Regions from separate parts of the Homo sapiens genome. Here all the other regions are linked to region 1. A link means that fine-mapping ties the variant in region 1 to the expression of a gene that starts in the linked region. Tissue or cell type: whole blood. Region 1 holds a variant in brackets; each other region holds the start of a gene. Each region is shown on its reference strand, or each on the opposite one. Region 1 has its middle 84 kb from the start of IKZF1. Region 2 holds the start of CXCL6 (C-X-C motif chemokine ligand 6). Region 3 holds the start of SLA (Src like adaptor). Region 4 holds the start of CFP (complement factor properdin). Region 5 holds the start of CA4 (carbonic anhydrase 4). Region 6 holds the start of GPR19 (G protein-coupled receptor 19). Region 7 holds the start of ITGA5 (integrin subunit alpha 5).

The links. PIP is the estimated chance that this variant, and not a neighbour inherited with it, causes the effect.
Region 2: CXCL6 starts here. The variant in region 1 is fine-mapped to the expression of CXCL6 in whole blood (TOPMed, PIP 0.97).
Region 3: SLA starts here. The variant in region 1 is the best candidate, but not a certain one, in a credible set for the expression of SLA in whole blood (TOPMed, PIP 0.51).
Region 4: CFP starts here. The variant in region 1 is the best candidate, but not a certain one, in a credible set for the expression of CFP in whole blood (TOPMed, PIP 0.57).
Region 5: it holds the start of CA4, and the variant in region 1 is the best candidate, but not a certain one, in a credible set for the expression of CA4 in whole blood (TOPMed, PIP 0.52).
Region 6: it holds the start of GPR19, and the variant in region 1 is the best candidate, but not a certain one, in a credible set for the expression of GPR19 in whole blood (TOPMed, PIP 0.60).
Region 7: ITGA5 starts here. The variant in region 1 is fine-mapped to the expression of ITGA5 in whole blood (TOPMed, PIP 0.99).

The regions. Positions count from the first base shown.
Region 1 is chr7:50,219,145-50,223,221 of GRCh38, forward strand. No RefSeq gene overlaps it. Among named protein-coding and RNA genes, the nearest start is that of IKZF1, 84 kb to the right of the region's middle. The variant G/A (reference allele first, on the strand shown) is at 2,074.
Region 2 is chr4:73,834,468-73,838,467 of GRCh38, forward strand. CXCL6 (C-X-C motif chemokine ligand 6) reads left to right here and starts at 2,211. Exons shown (of 4, transcript NM_002993.4): 1 at 2,211-2,392; 2 at 2,497-2,629; 3 at 2,736-2,819; 4 at 3,156-4,000. The coding sequence starts at 2,284. The coding sequence ends at 3,174. RefSeq lists a silencer at 2,185-2,479.
Region 3 is chr8:133,100,848-133,104,924 of GRCh38, forward strand. SLA (Src like adaptor) reads right to left here and starts at 1,755. Exons shown (of 9, transcript NM_001045556.3): 1 at 1,706-1,755. All of the region lies in intron 43 of TG (thyroglobulin), which reads left to right.
Region 4 is chrX:47,627,802-47,631,878 of GRCh38, forward strand. It overlaps CFP (complement factor properdin), which reads right to left and starts at 2,129. Exons shown (of 9, transcript NM_001145252.3): 1 at 1,968-2,129; 2 at 1,723-1,873; 3 at 301-476. The coding sequence starts at 2,043.
Region 5 is chr17:60,147,598-60,151,674 of GRCh38, forward strand. It overlaps CA4 (carbonic anhydrase 4), which reads left to right and starts at 2,376. Exons shown (of 8, transcript NM_000717.5): 1 at 2,376-2,495. The coding sequence starts at 2,438.
Region 6 is chr12:12,693,924-12,698,000 of GRCh38, forward strand. GPR19 (G protein-coupled receptor 19) reads right to left here and starts at 2,260. Exons shown (of 4, transcript NM_006143.3): 1 at 2,142-2,260; 2 at 1,536-1,588. RefSeq lists enhancers at 2,008-2,167, 2,348-2,427.
Region 7 is chr12:54,417,435-54,421,511 of GRCh38, forward strand. ITGA5 (integrin subunit alpha 5) reads right to left here and starts at 1,832. Exons shown (of 30, transcript NM_002205.5): 1 at 1,547-1,832. The coding sequence starts at 1,764. All of the region lies in intron 2 of GPR84-AS1 (GPR84, ZNF385A, ITGA5 and GTSF1 antisense RNA 1), which reads left to right.

The DNA.
Region 1 (4,077 bases):
AATGGAGGAAAATGGGATTCCAACTCAGGAGAGTTAAGCTCCAAGCCCTTGATTTTACCACTTGGGCCTTGTTACTCAAGGTCCAGGAACAAGTGGCACCTGTGCCACCTGGAAACTTGGTAGAAATCAGATCCTCGTGCCCCACTTCAGATGTACAGAATCAGAATGTGCATTTTCTCAAGAGTCCCAGGTTTAAGCATGTGTTCTGCCTTCCTGGGGAGGGTCCTTGAGCACTTTGGGGTCACAATTCAGCACCAAGTGGTGGTACATTCCCAGGTCAGGAAGAGGCTGTGTGTCTCTGGAGTAGAAACCCTAAGAGGCATAATAAGCAATAGTGCTTAGGAATAAGTGCTCAATTGTGATAATCAAACAGATAAGGAAAATAATGAGAAGGTGAGATTTCATGAAAGACAAAAAGACTAGTAGATGTTACACCTCTGGTTGTTTCTGAGTTTGTGAGCTCTTCGTCCATCTCTCCATCCACTCATTCATCAGAATGACTAAGGATCTAAAATGTTGGAAGGACACAGGCTGTCTCATTTTGCCTGTTTGGCCCACAGAGAGAAGTTAAAAGAGTTTGTTCTTACACCTAAGATGAGCTTCTAAGTTCAGTTACCAGAATTTTCAAGCAATGCAGAAAGTGGCATTCTGTGGTGGTCTTTAGAAAAGCAGTATCTCCTAAATCAAAGCAAGAGAGAATAAGACCACACATAAATCAAATGAAGAAAGAGTAGTGCCATCAATGATAGAGACAGACCTGAGGAGAGGGTGGTGGTAGAAAGAATCTGAATTAGAAAAGGGAGGAGAAGAAAGCCATGAGTGATGCTTGTCAAATTTGGGACTGGGCCCACACTGGCATTAAAGAGACCTGAATAGTACCTAGAAGTGTTCTGGGAGTTTTCACCATCCTGTGCTCCAATCATATCCTAATAGTTACTGATTTGGAAGTGGTACCCTGGGTCACATATGTCAATATCAATAGAAAGAAATGATTCTTATGGTAAATTCACAAAAGGATTATTTTTGGATTATAATTTGGCATCATGTGAGTTTGACTACCATGGGCTTGTTTCTGAGAATGTGATCACTTCAAGATGCCCTTACAAAATTGATCCTCTCTATTCTGAAAAATTGTAAGCCCTTGACCTGGCTTACTCACCTAACTACCGAGTGGCCCAATCAGCAGGTCTCCTTTCCTGGCATGGCACTGTAACCTCCTCACCCTGGATCTCTCCCACTACTTTCTTACAATTCAGTTAAGGGATCACCCATACCCACATGCTCACTGCCTCTCCCACAGTTAGTTCCTGAATCTGTTTTGACTGAGGTTGCAATTACTTAAACTTTTGCAACCATCCCCTTCTCTCTATTCAACAGGCAGAACCTAATATCATCACTCTTATTACGTGGCTAACCAGGGAGCTCCTGTTCTGTGCCTCAATTACCAACTCTCCCTGTCCTGTGCATGCCCTAGTCTATGGAAAGGACTTTAAGTGCCCTTTTCTGTCTCCATTTAGTCCTCCAAATGCCTTGCTTTCAATATTGAAGTCCAGCTTCTGAACACCCTACCAGGTGGCAAGGCTCCAAGAACCATTTTTTTAAGTGGTTCCATACTGCTTGGCATCATTTAGCCAATATGCTCAGGGTCTACACTCCATCTACCACTGGGATCCCATCACCACCTGCCTACCCCACTTCCACTCCCACAGCTGACAACTTTCCCTGAACAAGATTGAGATTGTTGTGCTCTTGGACACTTGTGCCCAGCCTCCCCTGCCCTGACAGCATCCTTGCCCTGTGGGTTCCTCCAGCCTCCATTTTCTTACCCCAGTGGGGAGACTAAGCACCACCTATGACTATCTCTTTACTTCATTACGTGGCTGGAGATGGAGTTTCTTCTGTAAATGGCATCTGACCTATCTCAAGATAGAGGAGCCCAAAGGAGTGATCCGAGTGAGTGAAGTGAATTAGTGACAACTTCATGCAAAAAAGTTTGAGACACGTCATGGAGATGAATTAGGGAAGAGGTAGAGGAGGACCTCCAAATAGAGGAAATGAGGTAACACTTGCAGG[G/A]ACTGGGCAACCACCAGCTCAACAAGGGAGGGGACAGAGGTCAGCCTGTGGCAAGGAGCTCCCAGCCCCTCCCTCTCTGGGAAGAAGCAGTGGAAGCACCTTTCCTCCAGTTCTGCTCTGGACTCCCAGCAACAAACCGTCATGATCTGGGAACTTTGCACAGCCAAGGATGAAATGTCAGCCCTCAAACCTATGTCAGAGCTGCTGTGAAAATTGGAAATAAGAAACTTATGATAGGAAATTCATTTGCATGTACTATTTTACTTTTAACCCAGAATGATAGCTTTAGGCTTAAGCCATCCTATATCATCTGTATGAATTATTTCTTAATTTTCACTGAATGTTCAAAAGTAGAGTCATGTTTAATCATATAAGCACAGAGATGCATATACACACATATTCATACCTGCATGGGGCAGGGGAGTGTGTGTGTGTGTGTGTGTGCATAAACACAAGTTGCTGGGAGGAGATGAAATGAATAATGCCATACACTCACAACTTAAAAAAAATTGGGAGTAGTAGTATTTTGTTTCTCAGTTATTAATTCCAGTTAATGTAGTGATTAGAAAAGGAATCCACAAACATTTACTGGAATCTAAGTTCAGCCAAGCATAATGAGACTGGCTCATGTTATTTTTAATAGGCTTTTCATAGCTCATCCCTTAAATATAGAGAAACAAAGAGGTAAGAGAAATCAAGTCTATTCAAAGGCACATTCCATCCATGATACCAAGATTACAGCAGTTCTCTCATGGCTATAAAGCTTTGTTCCTGTCTCTTTAGCCAATTCAATAAGTAAGCTCACAAATGGGATAAAATAGATTAAGGAAGCCCTAAATGTAAGTGTCAAAGATAAACAGAAAACATAGTATACTCTTTCTTGCTCTTTTTGCACTGTTGTGTGACTTGAAACATTTTCCCTAGTTAGTTAGGAGACTTGGAATACTTCCAATCTGCCCCTACTCCTTGCCGCTTATAAATTCTTAACTTCCTATTGATACCAAAGATATCACAAGAAAACAAATCAATATATCATATTAATATAGATATAAAAACCTTCAACAAAATACTAGCAAGCCAAATCCAGTAACATATAACACAAACTGTATACCATGTGTATGCATACCAAGTGGAACTTATTCCAGGAATTCAAGGTTGGTTTAATATCTGAAAATTAATTAATGTAAAATAACATATCAACAGAATAAATGATAAAACCATATGATCCTCTAAATTAATGCAGAAAAGACATTTGACAAAAATCTAACCCCCTTCATGATAAAAACACTCAAAAAGCTATGAAAAAAATGGAAATTTCCTGAGCCTAATAAAAGACATCTATGAAACATCCACAGCTAATTTAATAGAAAATGACTTATTGTTTTCCCCTAAGATCAGGAATAAGACAAAGATATTCATTCTCACTGCTTCTATTCCACATTGTACTGGAAGTTCCAGCCAGAGAAATTAGTCAGGCAAAGGAAATAAAAGGCTTTTCGACTGGAAAAGAAGAAGTAGAACTATATTTATTTCCAGATGACATGATCTTATATATAGAATATGCTACAGAGCACACTAAAAAAATAGAATTAATAAATGTGTTCAGCAAGGTTGTAGGATATGACACCAATATGCAAAAATCAGTTGCAAATCTATACATGAGCAATAAACAATTTGAACGTTGTTTTAAAAATTTCATTTACAATACCATTCAAAAGAATAAAATACATAGAAATAAAGTTAACAAAGAAGAACCAATATTTCCATGCTGAAAAATCACAAAACCTTAATTTAAAAAAAGAGACATCAATAAATAGGAAGACATACTATGTTCATGGATTGAGAGATTTAATACCATTAAAATGAAAATACTCCCCAAGATGATCTATAGACTCAATCCCTATCAAAATTTCATCAATCTTTTTTGTAGAAAATGAACAGTCAATCCTGAAACCCACATGAAATTACAAGGGACCTTGAATAGCCAACCAACCTGAAGAGAAA
Region 2 (4,000 bases), not on the chromosome of region 1:
CTGAGAATGATGATTTCCAATTTCATCCACGTCCCTACAAAGGACATGAACTCATCCTTTTTTATGGCTGCATAGTATTCCATGGTGTATATGTGCCACATTTTCTTAATCCAGTCTATCATTGTTGGACATTTGGGTTGGTTCCAAGTCTTTGCTATTGTGAATAGTGCTGCAATAAACATTCGTGTGCATGTGTCTTTATAGCAGCATGATTTATAGTCCTTTGGGTATATACCCAGTAATGGGACGGCTGGGTCAAATGGTATTTGTAGTTCTAGATCCCTGAGGAATCGCCACACTGACTTCCACACTGGTTGAACTAGTTTACAGTCCCACCAACAGTGTAAAAGTGTTCCCATTTCTCCACATCCTCTCCAGCACCTGTTGTTTCCTGACTTTTTAATGATTGCCATTCTAACTGGTGTGAGATGGTATCTCATTGTGGTTTTGATTTGCATTTCTCTGATGGCCAGTGATGGTGAGCATTGTTTCATGTGTTTTTTGGCTGCATAAATGTCTTGAGAAGTGTCTGTTCATGTCCTTCATCCACTTTTTGATGGGGTTGTTTGTTTTTTTGTTGTAAATTTGTTTGAGTTCATTGTAGGTTCTGGATATTAGCCCTTTGTCAGATGAGTAGGTCGCGAAAATTTTCTCCCATTTTGTAGGTTGCCTGTTCACTCTGATGGTAGTTTCTTTTGCTGTGCAGAAGCTCTTGAGTTTAATTAGATCCCATTTGTCAATTTTGGCTTTTGTTGCCATTGCTTTTGGTGTTTTATACATGAAGACCTTGCCCATGCCTATGTCCTGAATGGGTAATGCCTAGGTTTTCTTCTAGGGTTTTTATGGTTTCAGGTCTAACGTTTAAGTCTTTAATCCATCTTGAATTAATTTTTGTATAAGGTGTAAGGAAGGGATCCAGTTTCAGCTTTCTACATATGGCTAGCCAGTTTTCCCAGCACCATTTATTAAATAGGGAATCCTTTCCCTATTGCTTGTTTTTCTCAGGTTTGTCAAAGATCAGATAGTTGTAGATATGCGGCATTATTTCTGAGGGCTCTGTTCTGTTCCATTGATCTATATCTCTGTTTTGGTACCAGTACCATGCTGTTTTGGTTACTGTAGCCTTGTAGTATAGTTTGAAGTCAGGTAGCGTGATGCCTCCAGCTTGGTTCTTTTGGCTTAGGATTGACTTGGCCATGCGGGCTCTTTTTTGGTTCCATATGAACTTTCAAGTAGTTTTTTCCAATTCTGTGAAGAAAGTCATTGGTAGCTTGATGGGGATGGTATTGAATCTATAAGTTACCTTGGGCAGTATGGCCATATTCACGATATTGATTTTTCCTACCCATGAGCATGGAATATTCTTCCATTTGTTTGTATCCTCTTTTATTTCATTGAGCAGTGGTTTGTAGTTCTCCTTGAAGAGGTCCTTCATGTCCCTTGTAAGTTGGATTCCTAGGTATTTTATTCTCTTTGAAGCAATTGTGAATGGGAGTTCACTCATGATTTGGCTCTCTGTTTGTTTGTTATTGGTGTATAAGAATGCTTGTGATTTTTGTGCATTGATTTTGTATCCTGAGACTTTGCTGAAGTTGCTTATCAGCTTAAGGAGATTTTGGGCTGAGACCATGTCTCTGTTTGTTTGTTATTGGTGTATAAGAATGCTTGTGATTTTTGTGCATTGATTTTGTATCCTGAGACTTTGCTGAAGTTGCTTATCAGCTTAAGGAGATTTTGGGCTGAGACCATGGGGTTTTCTAGATATACAATTATGTAATTTGCAAATAGGGACAATTTGACTTCCTCTTTTCCTAATTGAATACCCTTTATTTCCTTCTCCTGCCTAATTGTCCTGGCCATTGGAGAGGAGGAGCATCTCCCAGACAGCTGCGTGCCTCAGAGAAGCCAGCCTCGCTAACCCCTCAAGCCCAGGGGATGAGACCCTGCTGAATCGCTGCTCTATTTTGGCTGGAGCCACAGCTCCCTCCACCGCGGGGCGGGGCTAAAATGTCCTCCCCCTTAAGGGAGCAGGCAGCTCCTCCCAGCCACCCACCCCACCAATTCCCATCCTCCCGCCCCCCTCCACCAACCCCTTCTTTCCACACTGCCCCCTGAGTTCAGGGAATTTCCCCAGCATCCCAAAGCTTGAGTTTCCTGCCAGTCGGGAGGGATGAATGCAGATAAAGGGAGTGCAGAAGGCACGAGGAAACCAAAGTGCTCTGTATCCTCCAGTCTCCGCGCCTCCACCCAGCTCAGGAACCCGCGAACCCTCTCTTGACCACTATGAGCCTCCCGTCCAGCCGCGCGGCCCGTGTCCCGGGTCCTTCGGGCTCCTTGTGCGCGCTGCTCGCGCTGCTGCTCCTGCTGACGCCGCCGGGGCCCCTCGCCAGCGGTGAGAGCTCCTGGCACTGGGGTGCATCCCAGCCTCTGCGGGGCCGCTGCGTTCCAGGGAACTCTCCCAGCAACCTGCCCTATAAAAATGTCTTTCTTCCCCAGCTGGTCCTGTCTCTGCTGTGCTGACAGAGCTGCGTTGCACTTGTTTACGCGTTACGCTGAGAGTAAACCCCAAAACGATTGGTAAACTGCAGGTGTTCCCCGCAGGCCCGCAGTGCTCCAAGGTGGAAGTGGTGTAAGTTCTCCTGTGTTGCTGTGTCCACTGTGACTTAGGCAAGTCCTCCAGCCTGGGTCGTCAACCTTTGTGGCTCATGGGTGCATCCTCTTTTTCTTTACTTCAGAGCCTCCCTGAAGAACGGGAAGCAAGTTTGTCTGGACCCGGAAGCCCCTTTTCTAAAGAAAGTCATCCAGAAAATTTTGGACAGGTATTTGTCCCTTTGATCTTTGTGGTGTTTTAATATCTTCTATGGAAAGCATATACTTCACAATGTCCTTATTCTCTCTGTAGGATTTAGACTATGCTTAGAATTATAAGGTTGTTAAGAAGAATAAGGAAACTTTTTTTCTGGAATGTTCTGGGTAAACCTTTATCACCAATCTTACATGCCTGAACAATTACACAGAGCTCATTACTGACATCTATTTTTTGTCTGCTCTTTGCTTTTATTGATTTTTTTCCCCCACCAAACGCTTTTGAAAACCAAATGTAGCATACAAGAGTGTGGGAATTGGTTATACTAATATAACTCTTTTCTCAACAGTGGAAACAAGAAAAACTGAGTAACAAAAAAGACCATGCATCATAAAATTGCCCAGTCTTCAGCGGAGCAGTTTTCTGGAGATCCCTGGACCCAGTAAGAATAAGAAGGAAGGGTTGGTTTTTTTCCATTTTCTACATGGATTCCCTACTTTGAAGAGTGTGGGGGAAAGCCTACGCTTCTCCCTGAAGTTTACAGCTCAGCTAATGAAGTACTAATATAGTATTTCCACTATTTACTGTTATTTTACCTGATAAGTTATTGAACCCTTTGGCAATTGACCATATTGTGAGCAAAGAATCACTGGTTATTAGTCTTTCAATGAATATTGAATTGAAGATAACTATTGTATTTCTATCATACATTCCTTAAAGTCTTACCGAAAAGGCTGTGGATTTCGTATGGAAATAATGTTTTATTAGTGTGCTGTTGAGGGAGGTATCCTGTTGTTCTTACTCACTCTTCTCATAAAATAGGAAATATTTTAGTTCTGTTTCTTGGGGAATATGTTACTCTTTACCCTAGGATGCTATTTAAGTTGTACTGTATTAGAACACTGGGTGTGTCATACCGTTATCTGTGCAGAATATATTTCCTTATTCAGAATTTCTAAAAATTTAAGTTCTGTAAGGGCTAATATATTCTCTTCCTATGGTTTTAGACGTTTGATGTCTTCTTAGTATGGCATAATGTCATGATTTACTCATTAAACTTTGATTTTGTATGCTATTTTTTCACTATAGGATGACTATAATTCTGGTCACTAAATATACACTTTAGATAGATGAAGAAGCCCAAAAACAGATAAATTCCTGATTGCTAATTTACATAGAAATGTATTCTCTTGG
Region 3 (4,077 bases), not on the chromosome of region 1:
AAAATTTCAATAGCCTTAGGGGTTAGCCTAAGTGAAGTAACTCATGCTCTTACTTTACGTTATCTCAACTGTATGGCTGTGAGGTAGGGAACCATGAACCAGTATTTAACACGATTTTTTTTCTGGGAAAGAAAGGCTTAGTGAGGTTTACCGGGTGTCTCTAGGTCAGCTAACTAGTCCTTTGGAAAGCCAAGTCTCCACTGCAGGTCTCTGACCCCAATTGCAGGGCAGGAGTGGGGAGGGTGGCGGGTGGCAGGCTCTACCCATTACCCTATCTGTGATAAACACTAGGTCAGGGATGCGCTATCACCACCTTACCCCCACCATACGCAAGCATCACCTAGAGAGATCCTCAGGATTCTACCCCACACAGAACTGCAAGAGGGCACAGTGGACAACCAAGTGGAAACTGAGTTATGAGCTATGCTCCCACCCTCCCAACAGTGAGGAAACTCCTCTGGACTTCAACCCAATGTGCCCTTGTATTGCCCTCCCTTGCCTCAGCCCACTCCCAACCTGAATTTAGAGTTGGGCTTGTGCATTTCTCTGTTTGCCCCAAGAAGGCTCCATGGCACCTGGGTCCAACCACCATCAGCCAAGGAGGACCTGAAGATGGCAGGTTCTGGAGGGCCTCAATCTCAGCCATGCCTTTTACTCCATCCTCTGTCCTTTGATACCCACCCAGCCCCTCCTGCCCCATCTGGGGCTGAGAAACAGGACATATCAATTGCAGTAAATTGCCACATCCACCTAAACAGGGTGTCCAGCATGTTTTTGTAACACCAACACCTGTTTGTTTAGTCATGCTGGGCCAGGTGTTTCAGCATAAAATACAAATTGAATTCCTCCCCTCAGAAGGGCTTGCAGTCAGATGATAACAGACAAGGCAAACAACTGAAACACCATTGATACATACTATATGGAGAGATGGACATCTATTCCAAGACCTCAGGAGGTGGAGATCAGGTGCCATTGGGCCCCATAGCAGCACTGTCAGCTGGAGTGACACAATGGCCAGGAACTGACCAGGACCCCGCTCCCTTGGTCATGTGTCAACACAGCAGGGAGAGTGTCCTGGGTGTCCTTGGATTGCAATCACGAGCATCCAAGTTACCCAGAGTCTGAGCCTCAGTTTCCCTATCTGTGAAGTTGGGAGATGATTAGTAAATATCCTCATAAAGATGTTCAAAAATTCAAATACACAACAATATCTGGAAAATAGTTTGGCTTCAATAAATGTTCGTTCTTTTCCCTTAATTTTTTAATTTTAATATTAAGATTAGTGTCCAAAGCTGTTATCCCTTCTTCAGATAATTATACACAGAAAGCAGGAATACAAAGAACGTCCAATCTCTGAACCACCTCAGCTGACCTGAGACCAATTTTCCAAATTGTAGTAAACACAAATGCATGCTCTCTACTCATGCCAACGCTGCATAAGTATCAGCTGGATCCCAGTCCACAAACACATGCAGTGCAGCTTCCCAGGGAAGTCACGGAGGGACAGGAGTGGAGCCTCTTACCCCAAGTCCTGCCCCCTGGAGCTACTCACCACCAGCAGAGACCCACCCATTTTCTTCAGACCAAAGACGGAGGGTGGGTACAGGATCCATCAAGTCCCTCTGAAGACCCTCCCCCACATACCACCCCAGGCCACCTATGGCCCACCCAGGGGGTCCCAATGACAGCAAAGTTAGCAACCTACCGGTGGAGCATCAGGGCTGCCTGAGATGTTCTCCATTCGCAGCAAATGATCTTATTTTCTGAAGTAGCAGCTTTCTATTGAAATTCTTCATCAGTCGCTGTCATGGGGAATTTCTCCCCCTTTTCTCTTTCTTTCTAACTGGTGAAATTGACAGTCTGCCTACATTATCCAGGCATTCATTTGCATGATCAAAAGCAGATTTGTTCCAAGATGCAATGTTCTGCCTTCCCTTCCAAGCACAGGCATCTCCAAGGAAGGCGAGAAAAATCAGAAACAGAGCGCCTCCGCTGTGCCCCTAAGCTTGGCCAGGAGTTGGCCTCGTCTGGGAGCAGGTGGAGTGGGGGCCCTGTGGGTAGCAGTAGGGGGAGGGCAGCCCATGTGGGAGTTGGAAAGCAGCACCTGGCAGCCCGAGGCGCTGGCACGAGCCCCAGCACAGGAATATCCAGTCTTTGGTGACAGATTATAGTAAGAGGAGTATGCAGGAGTTTCCAGTGTGTGTGTGATTTCCTGAAAGGAGGCACTGCTGCCTTAAATCCCCAGCACTCAGGGACGGGAGGGTGTTAGGGTCTGAACCCAGGGCATCGCGGGGACCTGGATTCAGAAAAATGGGTCACAATTCTTAGCTTTAGCCACACGATGTAGGAGAGTTGCTGAACTGGTCTGAGCTGCAGTTTCTTTAGCCTTCAAATGGACACAGTGAGAGCCACCCTGTCTGTCTCTTGCAGTGTTATAAGAAGCGAAAGAGGTATCTCCCAACACCCAGAGAGCCCTGTAGGTCTCATGGCTCTAGGATGCCCTTGCACACTGTAAACCCTCCACCCTGGAGCTATAGCCCCACATTACCCCTCACAGCTGACGCTTACACGTCACGTTGTCTAATTCTCCCCAGGGGCCCTGTGAGCTGGGATTATGGTTCAGAGAAAGCTGAGGATCAGAAGGACTGACTTGTCCCCCCCAAAATATTAAAATATTGTATTTCATGACTGCATTGTTATAAGGATGAATGTAAACCAGGCTGGATTCATTATTACATTTTCATTATTATTATATTTTTTCTTCTGATTTTAAAAGAAATTAGAAAGAAAAGACTTTTGTGAGTTCCTAAAAGTGCAGTGAGCCCTTGGCCCTGAGCAAGCTGTGCTTGATGGAGAAGTAAGTCCTTGTCCCTTAACACCATAAGGAGCAGTGAAGTCAGGAGTCATTCAAGCATTAACCCATGCAGCATCTCTCCAACATAGATTATTCAGAGGCTTCTGTGCGCTGGACTCTCTCTAGGCTTTAGAGGGCACAGTTGTAACCTAAACAGATAAAGCTTCTGACTCGGAGAGTTCATGTTCTCATGAAAGGACACAGATGATGTAAGTAAATAAAGAATTTCAGATCTTAGAAATGCCCTGAAGAACACTGAAGTGGGGCCATTGCAGAGGAGGCGATGGAATGGGGCAATTACTTTAGGGGCAGTCAGAGAAGGCTTTTCGGAGGAGGTGACTTCTGGACTGAGGCCTGAGCAATGGGGAGCCAGCGATGGGGATTGAGGTACAGAGTGGGTGCAAAGGCCCTGGGGCAGGAGTGGTCCTGGCTGTTTGGGGGTCACAGGGAGGTCAGTGCTAGGAGATCCAGTGGCCAGTGGAGGGACTGGGAGGAGAGGAAGTCAGAGGGATGAAGAAGACCAGTTATGAGATCTTTCAGGCCATCAGAAAAGTGACTTTATTCTCCTTGCAGTGGGCAGTTACTGGAATGTTTCAAGCTAATAATAGAAGGTGATTATATTGATCCACTGTTTTAAAAAGGAACATTTCTGGCAGCTATATGGAAAATTGACTAAGGAGATGTGTGACCCAGGAAGTAGAGATCAGATTGGGCTCTATTGTGGAAATCCAGGGGTTGAGCTAGTAACTTAAATTAGGGTTGCAGACATGGTCACAGTAAAAAATGATCAGATTTGGGATATATCTCGCGTTGGCAGCTGACTATATGAGTTGGGAATTCAGTAGAGAGGTCAGGGCTGTAGATACAGCTTTGGAAGAAAACCAAGAAAATGCGGTATCACAATAGCCAAGAAAAGAAAGCATTTCCAAAAGGAAGCAAAAGTCAAATGTCACAGAGTCAAGAGAGATGAGGGCAGAGATTGGGCTCTTGTAGGTCATGGGAGACCTTGATGAGGGCCATTTCAGTGGAGTAACGGGAAGGAAAGGCTGATTGGAATAGGCTGGGGGAAGAGGGGAAGTGAGGACATGGTCACATTGCTTCCCAAACCCACCCTGTCTCCACTGAATGATGCTCTCCACTGGATGCAAACGGCCACCCAGGATTCACAGAGCACTTTGCTCATTCACCAGCTGACCCCACTGACTTCACCAAGCTCTGCTCCA
Region 4 (4,077 bases), not on the chromosome of region 1:
ATGGGTGCCTCCGCTTCCCCTCTCACCCTCACCGTGCACAGTCTGTTCTCCTCCCAACCCCAGTCAGATCACGTTCCTCCTCTGCCCACAGTCCAAATTACTCAGATGAAAAGCCAACGTCCTCTCTGTGGCCCCCAGGCAATGGACCCTCCTCACCTCTCTGACCTCACCTCCCACCACTCTCCTCCTTAGGTCCTTACAAACACTGGGGACGGGCCCACTCTGAGGACCTCTGTACCGATCGTTCCCACCAGTGCTGGGTGACAGGGAGTGCTTGCCCGCCTTGCTCATCCTCCTCACCAGGACAGCACTGCTGGTCCTCACAGGCCTGGAGCTGCCACTCCAGGGTCCCAGGTGCCACCTTTCCAGAGCACTGCCCATTCCAGCCCACACAGCGCCGGTACCGCAGCTGGGAGCCCTCAGAGCACGTCACCGAACAGGGGGCCCATGTGGACCACAGGGACCATCGTGGGGACCTGTGGAGAAGAGCACACACATCCCATCCTGGCATGAGCTAACAAGAATGGCATGTGGGACTCCAGAGTGTGGGCAGACACGAAGGGTTGCTAGGCAAGTGCGTGTGCGATGGATTGATAAGTCCTTACCTTTTAGGGATATTGGGATACTGATGGGAAGCAGTGGATATACAATAAGTGCTTGATAATGTCATTTACCTTCACAATCAGGCATCTGGAGTTACCATTGGAAGGCTGCATGGCCAACACCAGGTCCGCAGTAAGCAAAGGTAAGGACTAGAAACCAAGGGCTGCTGTCAGAAACCCACCAGATCACCACACTACACGGTAGTAGGTAAATAGAAAGTGCTTAATAAACCTGAGCCATCATCCCTATGACCTCAGAGGCCTCCTCAGAAATAACCCCAGATCTATCCCCAACCCACTGCATAGCCCTAGGTATGCTGTTCATGCCAAATAGATGTGATGAACTGTTGACATGACTTGGGGCCCAGAGCTGCCCTCAAAAATCCCCAAGCTCCCCATGCCCACGGTGTATCTGGGATATATAGTAAACAAGTAGAAAACAGGTCTGGCATACGGTAAGGGCTCAATCCATGCAAGCTGGAAATCATGATCAGGAGACTAGAGCTACCCTCAGAAATCCTCAAGCTCATCTCCCAACCCTGCCATGCAGCTGGTATACAGGGAGTGCTCAATGAATGTGAAGTGTCATCATAATTAGGGGCCTAGAGCTGCCCTTTGAATTCCCCAAACTTTCCCGCCCCCACAGTGTGTCCATATACAGTAAGCACTCAATAAACATGAGCTGTCATCAAAATTAGGGAAATACCAAGCTGCACCCCACCTGCAATGCTTCCAGTGTGCAGGAGGTGCTCAATATGTGTGAGCTATGTCAGTGGTTCTCAATCAGGGGTGATTTTGACCCCCAGGGGACATTTGGCAATGTCTGCTGACATGTTTGGTTGTCACAGCTGGTGGGGAGAATTGCTACTGGCATCTAGTGGAAGGCTAGGGGTGTTACAAAACATCCCACAATACACAGGTAAGCAATCCCCTCCCCCAGCCAAGAATTTCCAGCCCCAAATGTCAATAGTAACAAGGTTGAGAAACCCTGAGGTATGGTCACGATCAGGGCCTCAGGGCCACCCTTGGAAGTCCCAGAGAAAGAAAGTGCCCAGTTTTGGGTGACCCCCACAGACAGTCCTTCCCTCCCCCCCATCCCCCACCCCAGGCTCCCCCTAACCTGCAAGGCTGACAGAGCCCACCACTACGTTTCTGGTAGGCAAAGGCAGTGTTGAGACAGCAGTCTTCCACGCTGACACCACCCCCCAGGAGGCCCTTGCACTTGCCGGAGGATTCTTCATACTGGGTGAAGCAGAGCACGGGGTCTGAGCCTGTAACAGGGCCAGGGGATGGGTGGGTGGGGCTCGGTCAGGGATGTGGTGGGCCTGGACACCCCTGGGGCCAGCTGGGCCCTCACCCCCTCACCTGTGGCTGGCAGGGTGAGCAGCAGGAGCAGCGGCGGCAGCAACAATCGAGGGGCCTGCGCTCCCTCTGTGATCATGTTGAGTACTGCCCCCTGCACCTCTACCAGAGAGGAGGTCCCGCTTTATCTGGGTTGATAGGCTCCTGGAATCAGCAGGGAAAGAGGAACCTAGAGGCAGGAGGAACTGGGAGGGCATCCTGCTTTGACCCCACCCTGTCCCCTCTGCCTCCTTCTCTACTCTCCCCTCCCCATTTCCTGTCTTACTCTTGGTCTTGTTCTGTTTGTTACTATATCCCCAGCACCTCGCGCTCCTCCCAGCAACCTCACAGTGTTCAATAGAAGCTCCTAGGACAAATTCTCACCCAGAGGAAATGGAGCATAGGAGCGTGCAGCAACTTCCTAGCCGTGTGACCTTGGGTGAGTCACTTAACACCCCTGAGCCTCAGTTTCCCTATGTGGAAAATGCATAATCTCTAACATAATGACGGGGTCAACCTCGTGGGGGTGTTGAACCAGGGTGAAGTGAGTGTGCGGTGCTCAGTATGTTCCTGCTCGTGGGGGTGGAGGGAGCATCGAGTCAGTTGCTCCACCTTCCACCCTCCCTTAACCTCGGCCCTCCTTTCCTGAGAGGTTCCCTGTGGTCAGCTTGTGGTCGGGGAGGTCAGCACAAGGGAAGTGAGAAAGGGAAGTGGCAGGAGCCTGGGGAGGGATTCAGGAGGGGAATGGGGTCTATCCATTGTTCCATGGGCCCAGCTGGGGACAACACCAGGGTCTGGGGTGATTAGGAGGGAATAAGCTGGGCCATATTCCATCAGAGAACCCTCAGGCAGATAACACCCCCCTTCTGGAGCCTGTTTCCCCTCTGTAAAATGTGCTCACAGACAGCACCTACAACATAGGTAGGGTGTGTTGCAAAGATTGCGAGTTAAGCTTTTGTTTGTTTTGTCGAGATGGAGTCTCACTCCGTCGCCCAGGCTGGCGTGCAGTGTCACGATCTCGGCTCACTGCAACCTCTGCCTCCCGATTTCAACCAATTCTCCTGCCTCAGCCTCCTGAGTAGCTGGGATTACAGCCGTGTACCACCATGTCCAGCTAATTTTTGTATTTTTAGTGGAGACAGGGTTTCACCATGTTGGCCAGGCTGGTCTCGAACTCCTGACCTCAGGTTATCCACCTGCCTTGGCCTCCCAAAGTGCTAGGATTACAGGCGTGAGTCACCGTGCCCGGCCAGGAGTTAAGCTTTTGGAAAGTCTTTAGAACAGTGCCTGGCATATAGTAGGTGCTCTGTGTTTGATAAATTTATTCAACATTTATTGAGCACCTACTGGATGCCAGATGCGGTTCTTAGCATTAGAGCAGAGAATAGGACAGACAAAAATCCTGGCCCTCGAGAAGATGGATAACAAATGTTGCCCCTCCTCACAGAGGCCTTCCCCATACCCTTGTCTGGCATCCCTGTCACTCTCTAGCCCAGTAGCTTCCAAACCTGTTTTTTTGTTTGTTTTGTTTTAAAGAGACAGAGTCTTGCTGTCACCTGGGCTGGAGTGCAGTGGTCTGATCATAGCTCATTGCAGCCTCAAACTCCTGGGCTCAAGTGATTTTCCCACCTTAGCGTCCCCAAGTAGCTGGGACTACAGGCACACACCACCACACAACTAATGTTTTTATTTTCTGTATAGATGGGGTCTCGTTGTGTTGCCCAGGCTGGTCTCAAACTCCTGGCTTCAATATTTTCTCCCAACCTCAGCCTCCCAAAGTGCTGGGATTACAGGCATGAGCCATCACACCAGCCCTTCTTTTTTTTTTATTTTTTTATTTTTTTTTTATAAACCCTAATGAAACTCCAGGGCCCACTTTAAAATTTTTATTTTGCTTTTAATTAACAAAAAGAAGCACAAGAAAGATAGGAAGGCAATGCCTAATTTCCTCTGCTCTCAGGGAGGCAGAGGAATTCTGCAAATTCAAATGTAATAATTTGGTCAGCTGTTAAAACAGAAGTTCTTCAGGAACACTTGTTTTATGGGCAGTAAAGTATGTGTTAATATCTGTATCCATTACAGACATACTCTGTTCTCTGATAACATAAGGCTATCCTTGAAAATGTGCTTTGAA
Region 5 (4,077 bases), not on the chromosome of region 1:
GCCAGTGGCTACACCCAGGCACTGAGAGGCCGGTTGTGAGAGTCTGGGCTGGGCAGGCCCTGGTTCACAGCAGACTCCAAATAACTGTTTATTGGTGGAGGTCAGCCGGGCAGGGATTACCATCTCCAGTTTATAGATGAGGAAGTTGCAATCAGCCGGGTGCAGGAAAGTTGCCCAAGGTCATCCGTGAGTCAGAAGAAGAGCAAAGACTTGAACTCAGAACACTGGGGGCCTCTGCAGAGTAAGAGGAAGGAGGCTGGGGCTGCTGGGCTGGGCTCTCCCACTCAGGTGGCCTGGGCTGGCAGCTTTATGGGCCCTGTAAGTCGCTGGGACATGTCAGCACTCATTCCAGCTCTAACGACCCTAAATCAGGCCTTGTCCCCTACAGGTAAGCAGGGCCCCAGGTAGTCTAAATAGTGACAGGTGACTGGTTTATGGCAGGCCAGGACTGGGGTCAGGGCTGGAGATAAGGCTGAGAATGTTAAGACCAGGAACAGGAAGAGAGGGCCACTCACCCTGTGTAACCTTGAAGTTAGAGATGGCAGATGGAGCAGGAACCAGTCCACCACCCCATCGCCAATGTGCAGGCTCTGTGGTGCCCATAATTAAGATGCACCCATAAGAGAGTGTATAGCTTTACCCCTCCCGCATTCCTCAGAGGGGATGCCCTACCAGGGACTCGTTCTCCTCACCCATCTTTATGGTCCCAAAATGCACCCAGGGCCCCCCTCTCTCCTGGGGGGCCTGAATGCAATGAACTTTAAAGTGGATCATTGATCAACAGTCCCTTAACCCCACCAAAGTTTCCCAAGCCTCTCCCCTGCTCATCAGGGGGCTGGCCAGAGGTCACAGGGACTCCCTGGGGGTGGTTTTTATTCCCAGGAACAGGCTTCCTCAGTCCTGAAAGGGACATTTTTATAGCCCTGTGAACACAAATGCACTCCCCAGAATAGGCTCTGGGTGTGGAATCCCTCCTGTGGCTGTCATGGTCGCAGGCTGGTGATTACATTATACAGTGGTGTTGACAATAGAGCCCTAAGCCTGGCATGGACACCCCCTCACCTCCCTCCTGCCTCTCTGTAGGATCAAAGCTGCTCTGTGAGGCTGTGTGATCCTGGGCCAGGAGCGGGGAGTCAGCCTCAACCCTAAGCAAGGAGGAAGCATCTTTGCCTGAATCCTTCTGGGGGAGGCAATCCCCCTTCAGAAGTCCCTAGCCCAGGTTCGAAGGTCGGTAGGGACTGAGAGGTTGGCAGCGGATGGGGAGTGGCTAAACCAGAAAAAGGGGGCTTCCTGTTGATGGATTGATGGAGGAGGTCCAGGTCCACTGCCTGGTTCCCCGTCCCTCTCCCGCACCCCAGCCTGAGCTTCCCAAACTCCCACAGAAGCCCCCACCCCATGTGGGACACAGAGGACCTGCAGTAGCAGGAGGGCACAGCTAAGAGAGGAGACAAGAGGCAGCTTGGGGGCATGGGGGGGACCCCATTTCCCCAAATGTTGGAGCCGCCCTTAAGGGAACTTCCCCTGGACTCCTCTGGAGGTCTTGCCAGATGGGAGAACCAGGGGTCCATTCAGACCCCAGTCTCTTCTCTTCCCATCTCATCTCTCCACCTGGGGGGCTCAAAGAACCTAGCTCCTCCCCTTTGACCCCATCAGCTTCTCCCTCACCGAATCCTCTTACAATCCATTTCTTAATTCTGCCCCATCAACCCTCCCTGGTCATCACATAAACACCAGCAAGGGCAGTAGTTTAGGGACAGCTTTGCTCTGTATTCGAAGAAAGGTCTTTGGTCTGCTTAGAAATTAAGTTTGGAGCAGCCTGGGAGGAAATAGAAGAGATGAGACCCAGAGAATCAATGGCCACTGCCAAAGAGAGATAGGAGAGCCTTTCTGCGGCCACTGATTCAACAAACGGCATCACACGCCCCTCAGCCTCTCATCTCTTCGAGGCCATCTCCACCCCCACCCCCACCCCCACCCCAAGGCCATTCCAAGGTCCCATTCAAGACCACTGCGCAGGGGTGGCGCCAGAATGATCAAAGTCATCATGGGGCACTCATCTTTGTGTGGGTCAAGCACTTTGTGGTGTCGTGTCCCTGTTCCCAAACCAGGGACCAGGAGTAGGATGGGGGAGGGGCAGGGCGCCGCTGCTGAGTGGAGAGGACGCGGAGTGGGTGAGGGGGCCTTGCGCACAGGGCAAGAGGTGGCCAGGCAGGGCGGGGGACCGGGGAGAGCGGAGGATTTCAGATGAGGGACAGGGGAAGGTGGAGAGGGGAGGGCAGGCCCCGCCAGGGGGAGGAGCCGCCTCCCGCGTCCAGCTGTCGGGGCTCCCTCCCGTCGCGGCTCCGCTATAAAACCCAGGCCGGCAGGATCGCTGCACCCGCGGCGGCCTCCTCGGTGCGCGACCCCCGGCTCAGAGGACTCTTTGCTGTCCCGCAAGATGCGGATGCTGCTGGCGCTCCTGGCCCTCTCCGCGGCGCGGCCATCGGCCAGTGCAGGTGAGCTCCCGGGCTCCGGCCCCAGGTGCCCCTCGGCGGTCCCCTCCGTGCCCCCAGCTCCCGCCCCTGCAGAGGATCCCCCCGCGGGCGACCGGTGAGCGTCGGTGGCGCTGGGGTCCCGGGTTGCGTGTGCGCCGGGGGCCGCGAGGGTGCGGGAGGACTGGGCAGCGCGCGAGCTTGTGTGTGCACACGCGTGTCAGCACCGGCTGGGGGAGCGTGTGCACGGGTGTGCGCGGTGAGGGTGTGTGCGCGTGGCCCGGCGAGACGAGTTGGGAGTCCCTGATAAGGATGCGTCTCAGGCCGGGCGCGGGTGCTCCAGCCTGAAATGCCAGCACGTTGGGAGGCAGAGGCGGGTGGATCACCTGAGCCCAGGAGTTCGAGACCAGCATGGCCAACATGGTGAAATCCCATCTCTACCAAAAATACAAACATTAGCCGGACGTGGTGGCACACGCCTGTAATCCCAGCTACTCGGGAGGCTGAGGCCCGAGAATCGCTTGAACCCAGGAGGTGGAGGTTGCAGTGAGATCACGCCACTGCACTCCAGCCTGGTGCTCCGTTTAAAAAAAAAAAAAAAAAAAAAAAAAAAAAAAAAAAAGGATGCTTCTCGGACCCGCCTCAACGCACGCCTTCTTTTCTCACCCAGCCTCCTCCGTCTGCCCGTGGGTTTCCGTCCGTCCCGCTGGGACTCAGCGCTGGGTGACTGCCCCGCGGCCAGAGCAAGGGCGGTCTGGCAGGGTCCTGGAAGCCGCGCTTCCCACACGGGTTCCTTGCCCCTGAGGGTCGCAAGCTCCCCTGGCCTCCCTAACCTCCAGCGCTGAATTGGGAGCCTGGCGGGGGCGGGGGGTGGGGGACCCGGAGCCCCAAGGCCTCTGCGGAGCCGGTCTTTCCGGACAGGGTGATTTTCGTTTAAAGATTAATGGTGAAGCCGAGCTCTTAATTATTCCTCTAGGTGGGAGGTGGCAGGAAAGGCATGTTAATATTTGATAAGAAGCTAAAGGCGCTTCAAGCGGCTGGGCACAGGGATCCGATCCTGGAGGCACCTTCTTTGCAACCCCAGACCCCATCACCGGAAGACCCCCTCTGCCAGTTCTCAGCCCAACCACCCCTCGGATGGTTCTTGGGGTCCACGCAGGCTGAAACCTCCTCTCCCAAGTTAGGTGCTCCATCCTCAAAGCGGCGGAGTGAGGGGTGAAGGTGTCCTCTGCACAGAGAGGAGCCAGCGTGTGCCCTTTGCAGCAGGGACTGGCTGAGCTGTCTTAGAGGGTCGAGGGGCACCTTGCAGCCTCTCCACCGGGCCCCTGGGAGAAGAAAGAGAAAAAGCAGAATGTGGAAACTTTTATTTGTAGGGTTGGACATTGGAAACCTACTAAGCAGCTAGAAAGTAGAAAGAGAAATGCTTTGCAGTTCTGGTGCTTTGTAGCTGTGTGGTCTTGGGTAAGTCACTTCCTGTCCCATTTGCAAAACAGGTGTTGTCATTCTGACTTCAGGGGTTTTAAGCGTTTGAATAAGATAATGGGTTTAAGTGATTAGTGCGGTGCCTGTGTGGCACGTGGCTGGTGTGTCATATACCAAGTTTATG
Region 6 (4,077 bases), not on the chromosome of region 1:
AGCTCCTGACCTCGTGATCCCCCCGCCTCCGCCTCCCAAAGTGCTGGGATTACAGACGTGAGCCACCGTGCCTGGCCCTAGAGGGAACTCTTAAAGCAGTGGCTCTCAACCTTTGTTGCAAAATGGAGGGTTTTAAGAAAGTACTGATGTCTGGGCTCCACTCGCAGAGATTCTGATTTAATTGGTATAGAGAAAAGCCAGGGCATTAGGATTTTTTTAAGCTCCCAAGGTGATTCTAATGTGTGGGCATGGTAGAGTACCTGTCTTTTTTTTTTTTTTTTTTTTTTTTTTTTGAGACGGAGTCTCGCTCTGTCGCCCAGGCTGGAGTGCAGTGGCGTGATCTCGGTTCACTGCAAGCTCTGCCTCCCGGGTTCACGCCATTCTCCTGCCTCAGCCTCTGGAGTAGCTGGGTCTACAGGTGCCCACCACCACGCCCGGCTAATTTTTTGTATTTTTTTTTTTTTAGTAGAGACGGGGTTTCACCGTATTTGCCAGGATGGTCTCGATCTCCTGACGTTGTGATCCGACCGCCTCAGCCTCCCAAAGTGCTGAGATTACAGGCGTGAGCTACCGCGCCTGACCCGGTAGAGTACCTGTCTTAAAGCTCCCTAAATACAGACGGACCTACGATGCACAGAGCATCCACAATTCAACTGATAGGTGGCATGTACTTTACACTAAGTTCTATGCTACCTCATTTTGTCATTACAATAATCCTATGGCACAGGCACTATTATCCTTATTTTATAAATTGAGAAACTGAGATTCAGACAGGACACACAGAGTGACTGGCAGACCCTAAAGTCAAAGCCCAGGTCTGATTCCCAATTGTACACACTTTATATGACATCATATCGAGATGTCATGCCTCTCAGAGCTGGATGATCCCACTCCCTAAAACAAGACACCCAGGCTTCAACCCTGAAATCCTATTCCATTGCCTCCATGGATTTTTCCTGCAGCATTTTCCTATGCACTTCACACATACAGCGCAGCTGCCAGGATATACTTTAGGCTGCCAAAATGAAATGAAGTCACTTTCTTGGTAAGTGATTACCATGCCTGGCTCTTTACTGAAGTACTTCCATTCTATATATTCACACTGGGATCCTTCTCCATCACTGCTAGCTTCAATCCTGTGGCTTTCCATATTTAGTTTTTCTTACAGATGAAGTGATACTCTTTACCTATCAGCCATTCCTTTGTTGGAGTAAAATTACGTATTCCATCAGCATTCTTCTGCCTTGTACTCCAGATAGTATACAAAGAATCAAATTATAGTAGCTAAGTGGCATAGAATTGCTGCCGATATCAAGATGGACTCTAATATCTAGTGAACTGGGAGGCTAGAGGCTAGAAGTATGTACTTCTGTAAGGTGTCAGTGACACATCTGAGTAATGTGGTAGCTAAATGCCACCATTTCATTCCATGAAATCCACATTTCATTCTGGCTAAAGGGTAAAGCTGGTGAGAGGTGGGAGGGGCCAGGAGGCTCCATCGGAAGGAGGCAGACACTTCAGGTGTTGGGTGGTACCTTTAAGATGTTGCGGGGCCAAATCCAATGCCGGTGCAGGTGTCCCATATATCCTGAGAGACAAAAAGAGGTCAGATTGGTCAGATCCCTCGAGACAGTTCCCAAATTCCTGACTTCTGTTACCGCGACTGTTCTTCGCAATTCCACCTCGGCCTGTGTTCAGGACTGTGGCTTTTAGAATCTTCCTCATTCCATTCCATTAGGGGCGTCCCGATTTCCACCTTATATACACCATGTACTAAATGCATGCCATTTCTGCCTGTTTACAAACATGCATAAGTTCACACTCTTTTAAGAAAAATGTCCTCTACTGTCAACTTCTTTCTAGTCTGGCCTCCCAGGTAGGCTACAGAGCTACTGCCTTCATTTATCTCTCAAATCTTCCCATCTTCTCCTTCCCACTGTATTACCTTAGCTCACACTCACATCCTCTTGGTCACCAGCCAAAAAATAAATAAAACTCCTTTGTCCCTTCAGATTTCTCTCTTATTCTACAACCTCATTAATCGGCTCTCCCGCTCCCACTCCTTTACTACTTCAGTCGCTGAAACCTCCCCTCACAGAGTTCACGGCCAATATAAAAACGGAAAGAAGGGATGACCATACGAGCTTGTGGACTTTTGCCTGCAAAATCTCATAGAATGTGGTGTTGTGTACGTGAATCCATCAGATCAACGCGACGGACACTCCCCAAGGGCCAAATCGGACCGCCTCTCACTAGGCGGAAAGTTTTGAAACTTTTGCGCGCTAAAAATGATGAGCCAGACGCATGCGCAAACGTGCACTCCCGGGGTGGCGCTTCTCCTCAGGCAGATCTCGCGTGGTTTGGTGATGGCCGGCTAGTATGAAGGTTTTCCGTGGCGTTGAGATCCCACCCGCCCTTTTTTTTTTTTTTTTTTTTTTTTTTTTTTTTTTTTGCTGCCCCAGTGGATTAGGATTAGTGCTGCAGTCAAATGAAAAAGATCAAGACAAAAAATTAGGCTAATATAACTAGCCGACAGGCTAGCGGCATTTCTCTGGGGCCGAGGAATTCCACGAAGAAGATCTCTGCGAGGCCCAGAAGGCCGCACAACTACTTCTTCAGAAACAAAATTTTTTAAAAAAGTAAAAATAGAGGAAGTCAGCCAGTTTATCACCTTGGAACCAGCGTTTTGTTTGGCTTTTCCGCTTTTCACTCTACGAAAAAGCCCATTGGCGGCTACCCAGGTTACCGTCCTGTTGCCATTGCGCCTGCGCGGCGGTTTGTTTACCAGTCCAGGCGAAGCGCTGTGTCGCGGTTCTCGCCGCCCCGAGCGCCTTGGTTTGCTCCCTTGACGTGTAATTCGTAATGAAAGTCATGTTTTCATTTGGGAACACGGATCGGAGGTTTAAAACTGGACAGTTTAAGTGTCAACTTCAGACCAAAGAAAATAATGGTAGGGAAAACACTGGACACTCAGAAATCGGTGCCGCGTCAGAGCTGTCACGGAAGATGTTTCTAATGAACCTGAGGAAAACAATAGCACCACCCTAACCAGAACTAAAAAGTGGCAAGCAGCCACAGTTAATGAAACTCATAGGTGGCATTTAGTTACTTATTTAGAATGTAGGCCTAGTTATGGTAAAAATGCAAATAAGACCAAACCTAAGGTCCTCTTGCTCGAGCAAACCTCAAGCAAAACCTACATGATTTAAGACTGACTCTTGAAGCGAAGTAAAAAAAAAAAAAAAAAAAAAAAAGCAGCCATGCAAAATTTGAAACTTGGAGACGACTCTAGAAGCATTAACCCAAGAAAGCACAAGCCAACAAACAAATTTTTGAAATGGTTTGAAGAGCTCTTCAAAGTCAGTTTCAGGTGGCTTAGAAGAGGATGTTGCTTATAAAATGAGATCTGATGGAAACTTGTTTTACAGATATGACTGGATTCGTTTGAAAACAAAAAAAAAGGCAGGCAAAGTGACTTTTTAAAAAGTATTTTTATGGAAGGATTTCTAATGATACATTTTAATGTGCTCAAAAAACAACCTTAAATAACTGGTAGATTCAGCCAAACCTGGATCATTGTTATCTTAGAGCTGGATAAGAGCATAAATGTTAACAATTTGGCAATTTTATTGGACTCTGTTATGTTTTTGAATGGTGAATTTGAAGACTTCAACTTGTAACAAGAAATTTTCTAAAAGGAAAGTGGGATTTTCAAGACATATGAAATTAAGCAGAGAATATGTATGGACATGTGAACAGATGGAACCAAATTTTGAAAGCTTTGCATGTGTCCAGCATCGGTCACAGAAAATCCTTTTATCTCAAGAAACTAGCCTCTGGATTTTCTCACGTTCAATATGATAAAACTCAGTAAATCCAGCAGCTTGAATACCTTTTAACACAAATTTGTACCAAAATGAGAAGTAACTTTAAAATTCCGCTCCATTATCTAGAGGTACTCTGACTTGGTTAAGGTAAGGTGAAAATCGGTTTTCCAAGCCAGTATTGAACTGGCATTTTCATCATGAAGAAAAAAAAAATGCAGATAAAGTGAATGGGTATCTTGTTCACTTTAAT
Region 7 (4,077 bases), not on the chromosome of region 1:
AGGCCAGGGTGATGATGCAATGGGGTTTGGGCAAAAGGCCAGGGGGGTGGGGTGGGGGTTGGGTGGGGACCTTGAATAGCCCAGAACAACAGTCGGGGCCTAATCATTTTTCTTTTCTCCCATCCCCAAGTCCTCCAGACAAAGGAGAATTTGCCTTTCTCCCCAGTTGTATTAGCTAGATTAACCCCTTTTCTCCAAAAACTATAGGGACTGAGTAGAGATCAGTTAACTGTCTCATGTGTAAAAACAGGTCGCTTCTGACAGAATTCCCCTCAAACCCTGAGATCCTGGGGTTGGGGTGGGGGTGAGCAGTAGGAAGCTCCCAGCTCAGAGATGTAGAAGAAAAAGGATTACACCAGTCATTGTGGAGGACCAGGAATCTGGCATCTATGGCCTAGCCCAGGAGCAACCACCTACCTCTCTTGCTTCCCAATCTCCCCGCCATCCCACATTTAAACAGACACCCTTGGTTCTAATGTTGCTTCCACTCTAACTCCTGTTTCCCAAGCCTGTCAGTACCCCATTTTCTAGGCACTCGGGGTCCGGGTCTGCTTATCACTGTGCTGAGTTGGGAATAAGGATCCTCCTTTGAGATTTCCAGGGTCCTGAGTCCTTCATTCTGACGTTCTTGGCCCCACGGAGCCCCCGTCTCCCCAGCTTCCGACCCCAGCCCCAGAAGTCCCGGTCTCAGCACAGCTCCAGCCGACCAGCTACAGGAAACCAGCTTTTCTCTTCCTCCCAAGAGCCAGAGGAAGAGGGAAACCGCCCACCCCCCTTCACGCGCGCACACACCCCTCCCGACACATCCCAGCACCCGCCCTTGGCTGAGTTCGCCCCCAGCCCCAGGGCCCCAGTGCCAGGGTCCCCGCACTCGCCCCCAGTTCTCGGATCCCCTCGCCTGAACAGAGATTGGGGGCGGAGGGAGGAGTAGGAGACAGAGGAGAAAGGAGAGGGAGCCGCCGTCCTCTCTCGGGTCTTTCCCCGGTCTGAGTTGAGGGGGGAGGGGAGGATGAGGCTGGCCCCCATTTAACCTTCCGACCCCCTCAGTCTTTGACTTTCCTCCTACTACACGTAGCTCATTCGGCTTCTACCCGTTCTCTCGCCGCACAATGGCCCCTACGGATCCCGAGGTCTCCTGGAGCCCCCAAAAGCCCTTCCCGGCCTCTGCGCCCCCTCTGCGCCCCCACCCGCCCCAGGTCCCAGCAGCCCACAGACTTCAGCCAGAGACCCTCAGCTCTCCATTCACGCGCTCTCCTCTCCCTTGGCCCGGAGACCCCTGCCCAGACTTCTCCAGCTCCGTGTCCTCTCCCCACCGGACACATGTCTCCCCACTGATCTCAAACGCCAGGGCCCCTCCTCACCCGCCACGGTGCCCTCCCTACTCCAGCGCGGGCCCCCAACTCTAGCCAGGGCCCCCAACTGCAGCTCTATTCCTTACAAACTCCACCCTCAAACTTAAGCCCTGGTCCCCTCCAGACCCCAGCCGCGCCCCCAGTCTCCAGGCGGCTCCCCCACCCCCATCCCGTCTCCAGCCCTCCTCACTCACCCGTCTGTTCCCGGCCGGTAAAACTCCACTGAGAATCCGAAGAAGGAGCCCGGGGGCCCCGAGAGTACTGCTGGGGCCTCCGCGTCTAAGTTGAAGCCCCCGACCCTGGGTGGCGGCGGCAGCAGCAGCAACAGCAGCGGCAGCAGCGGGGGTCGGCGCCGGGGGCCCCAGCGCAGCTGCACGGCGTGGAGAGGGGACTCTGGCGTCCGGCTCCCCATAGCGCCCGCTCTTCCCTGTCCTGGGGCCACCGACCCGGAGCCGCTTCCTAAACCTCCCAGAGGCGAATGACTCAACGCGGGGAGGAGTTTGCCAAACTCCCGGCTGAGCCCTCCCCCCGCCTGCCGAGGGGGCTGGCGGGGGGGCATTCCTGGGTCCCTGGAACTCTGAGCCCGCGTCCCCCACCCCTAAGGGGCGTGGGGGGGGGGCGCACCCCTCCAACCCCCTTTCCCCAGCCCCAGCTGGAAGCCGGTTGTCTGGACTGGGTTAGACTGGGCGGGTTTGGGTTCTTCCCCCTCCTCTCTGCTTCCCCCTCCTTCCTCCCCATTCCTTTCCAGATGTACAACGTAAACGCTCGGAAAACGAGTCGGAAAAGGGAGCGGAGAATTTCCTAATGAGGAAAGGAATCACCTCTGGTGGGCGGAGGAAGCCTGTATATGTGTGTGGGGTCTCCCTCAGTGCTTTAGGGAGGAGACTTTGGGGTCTAAAGAGACAGGAGACTCCTCTGGCGTCCGGCCAACTGGGATTCCCCCTTGCCTTCCGGGGCCGCCGGGTGCCTGGGTTCTGGCCAGCTGGATTTGGGACACAACAGTTGAGGTACAGAGACAGCGTTCGCAGTCAGCTTGCTAGAGGACCTACACGGGCTCCTCAAGTTCCGCTGCTTCCTCCTCCAAGCTTGCTAGTATTGAAAACCCAGGAGTTTGGGGTCATTCATCAGGAGGATTCTGCTCCAGTTTGCCCCCTTCTTGGTCCTAGGGTATGTAAACCTCTGCTGAGCCCCTTCCTTGGATCTGACAGTTGACCAAAAGCCTGCGAGTGGCTGGCCCCTCAGTACCTGCTTGATTAAACTGGCCGGGTTCCTACAAACCTGGAGAATTGTGAGAGGTGGTGGTGGTGGTGGAAAGTCTTGCAAAGGGACCCAACCTTCAGCTCCTAATGGCTGTAAACGCTGGGAGCTCTGGCCAGGCACGGTGGCTCACACCTGTAATCCCAGCACTTTGGGATGCCGAGGTGAGCAGATCACCTGAGGCCAGGAGTTCAAGACCAGCCTGGCCAACATGGCAAAACCCATCTCCACTAAAAATACAAAAATTATCCAGATGTGGTGGTCCGCACCTGTAATCCCAGCTACTCGGGAAGCTGAGGCAGGATAATTACTTGAACCCAGGAGGCAGAGACTGCAATGAGCCGCGATTGCACCACTGCACTCTAGCCTGGGTGACAGAGCAAGACTGTATCCAAAAAAAAAAAAAAAAAAAAAATCCAAAAACCAAAAACCAAAAAAACAATGGGAGCGGAAAGCCAGGACCCCATTCTTCCCAGATTCCCCTGTGGAAGTAGAGGAAGGGACTCTAGAAAGGGAAGGCAGTGACCCCCTGCCCACCTCTTCCCCAAGCTCAGGCTCTGTGTGATGAGATCACTTTTCAGGATTCTAGCCTTTATCTTAGTCTGGGGGAGGGGACTACAAGTCCTTTCAGTCTCTTTCCTCCAGGACTCCTCACTTTCCAGAATAATACCCTGTCAATAATATCCTGTCAACCCTGTCCCTTCTGTTCTCCAGTCCCCTGCCCCACTTCGGGCTGAAAGGCTCAGAATAAGAGTGCCCAGAGTCAATGTTTTTTTCCTGCCATGACTCTCCCCCTCACTCTGCTACTCCACTTCCTGTCCCAAATCACCCATCTGCTTTTTTAAAAGCCCCCCTCCAGAGCCAGCTGCAGCCCAAGGGAGAGGCTGGCTGGCCAGACTGTGGGGCAATGCTGGCCCGTATCCCATTCTCACATCTGCAAGTCCTGACCCTTTCTTAGGTGAGGAACCCAGGGAATCTCTGGGTCAGGATCTTTAAGCCCAGCATTGCCAAAAAGGCAACCTTTAGGTGAGAGCTACTCAAGCCATGGGCTGGGAACCCCCTTTGGGAGGAGAAGGGCTGAGGCCTGATTGCTTTTTAGCCCAGCAAAACACGTGTGTGAACCAAACACTCTCCTTTCTCAGTCTAGGCAAACTCTTTAGATTTTCCCAGGATTTGGGAGATTAGGGGTGGGGGTGGGGAGGGGTGCAGGGAAGGAGGTGTGTGACTCAGCTCCTCCCAGGAGCCTTGGTGGGGGACAGGGGACATAGCGTCCTGCCCCAGTCCTCCTCCCCACTCCACCCCTAGCCTTGGCCAACTCAAACAGGCCCCCTCCCTGTCCATTCCCTGCTCCTGTTTACACCGGGAGCCCCTTAGTCATTCTTTGGCTGGCCTTTCTACTCTCCCCAATATCCCTCCTCTCTTGGCTCTTTCTGCCCTTATAAGTCCTCTCCCAGTGGCCCCAACACCT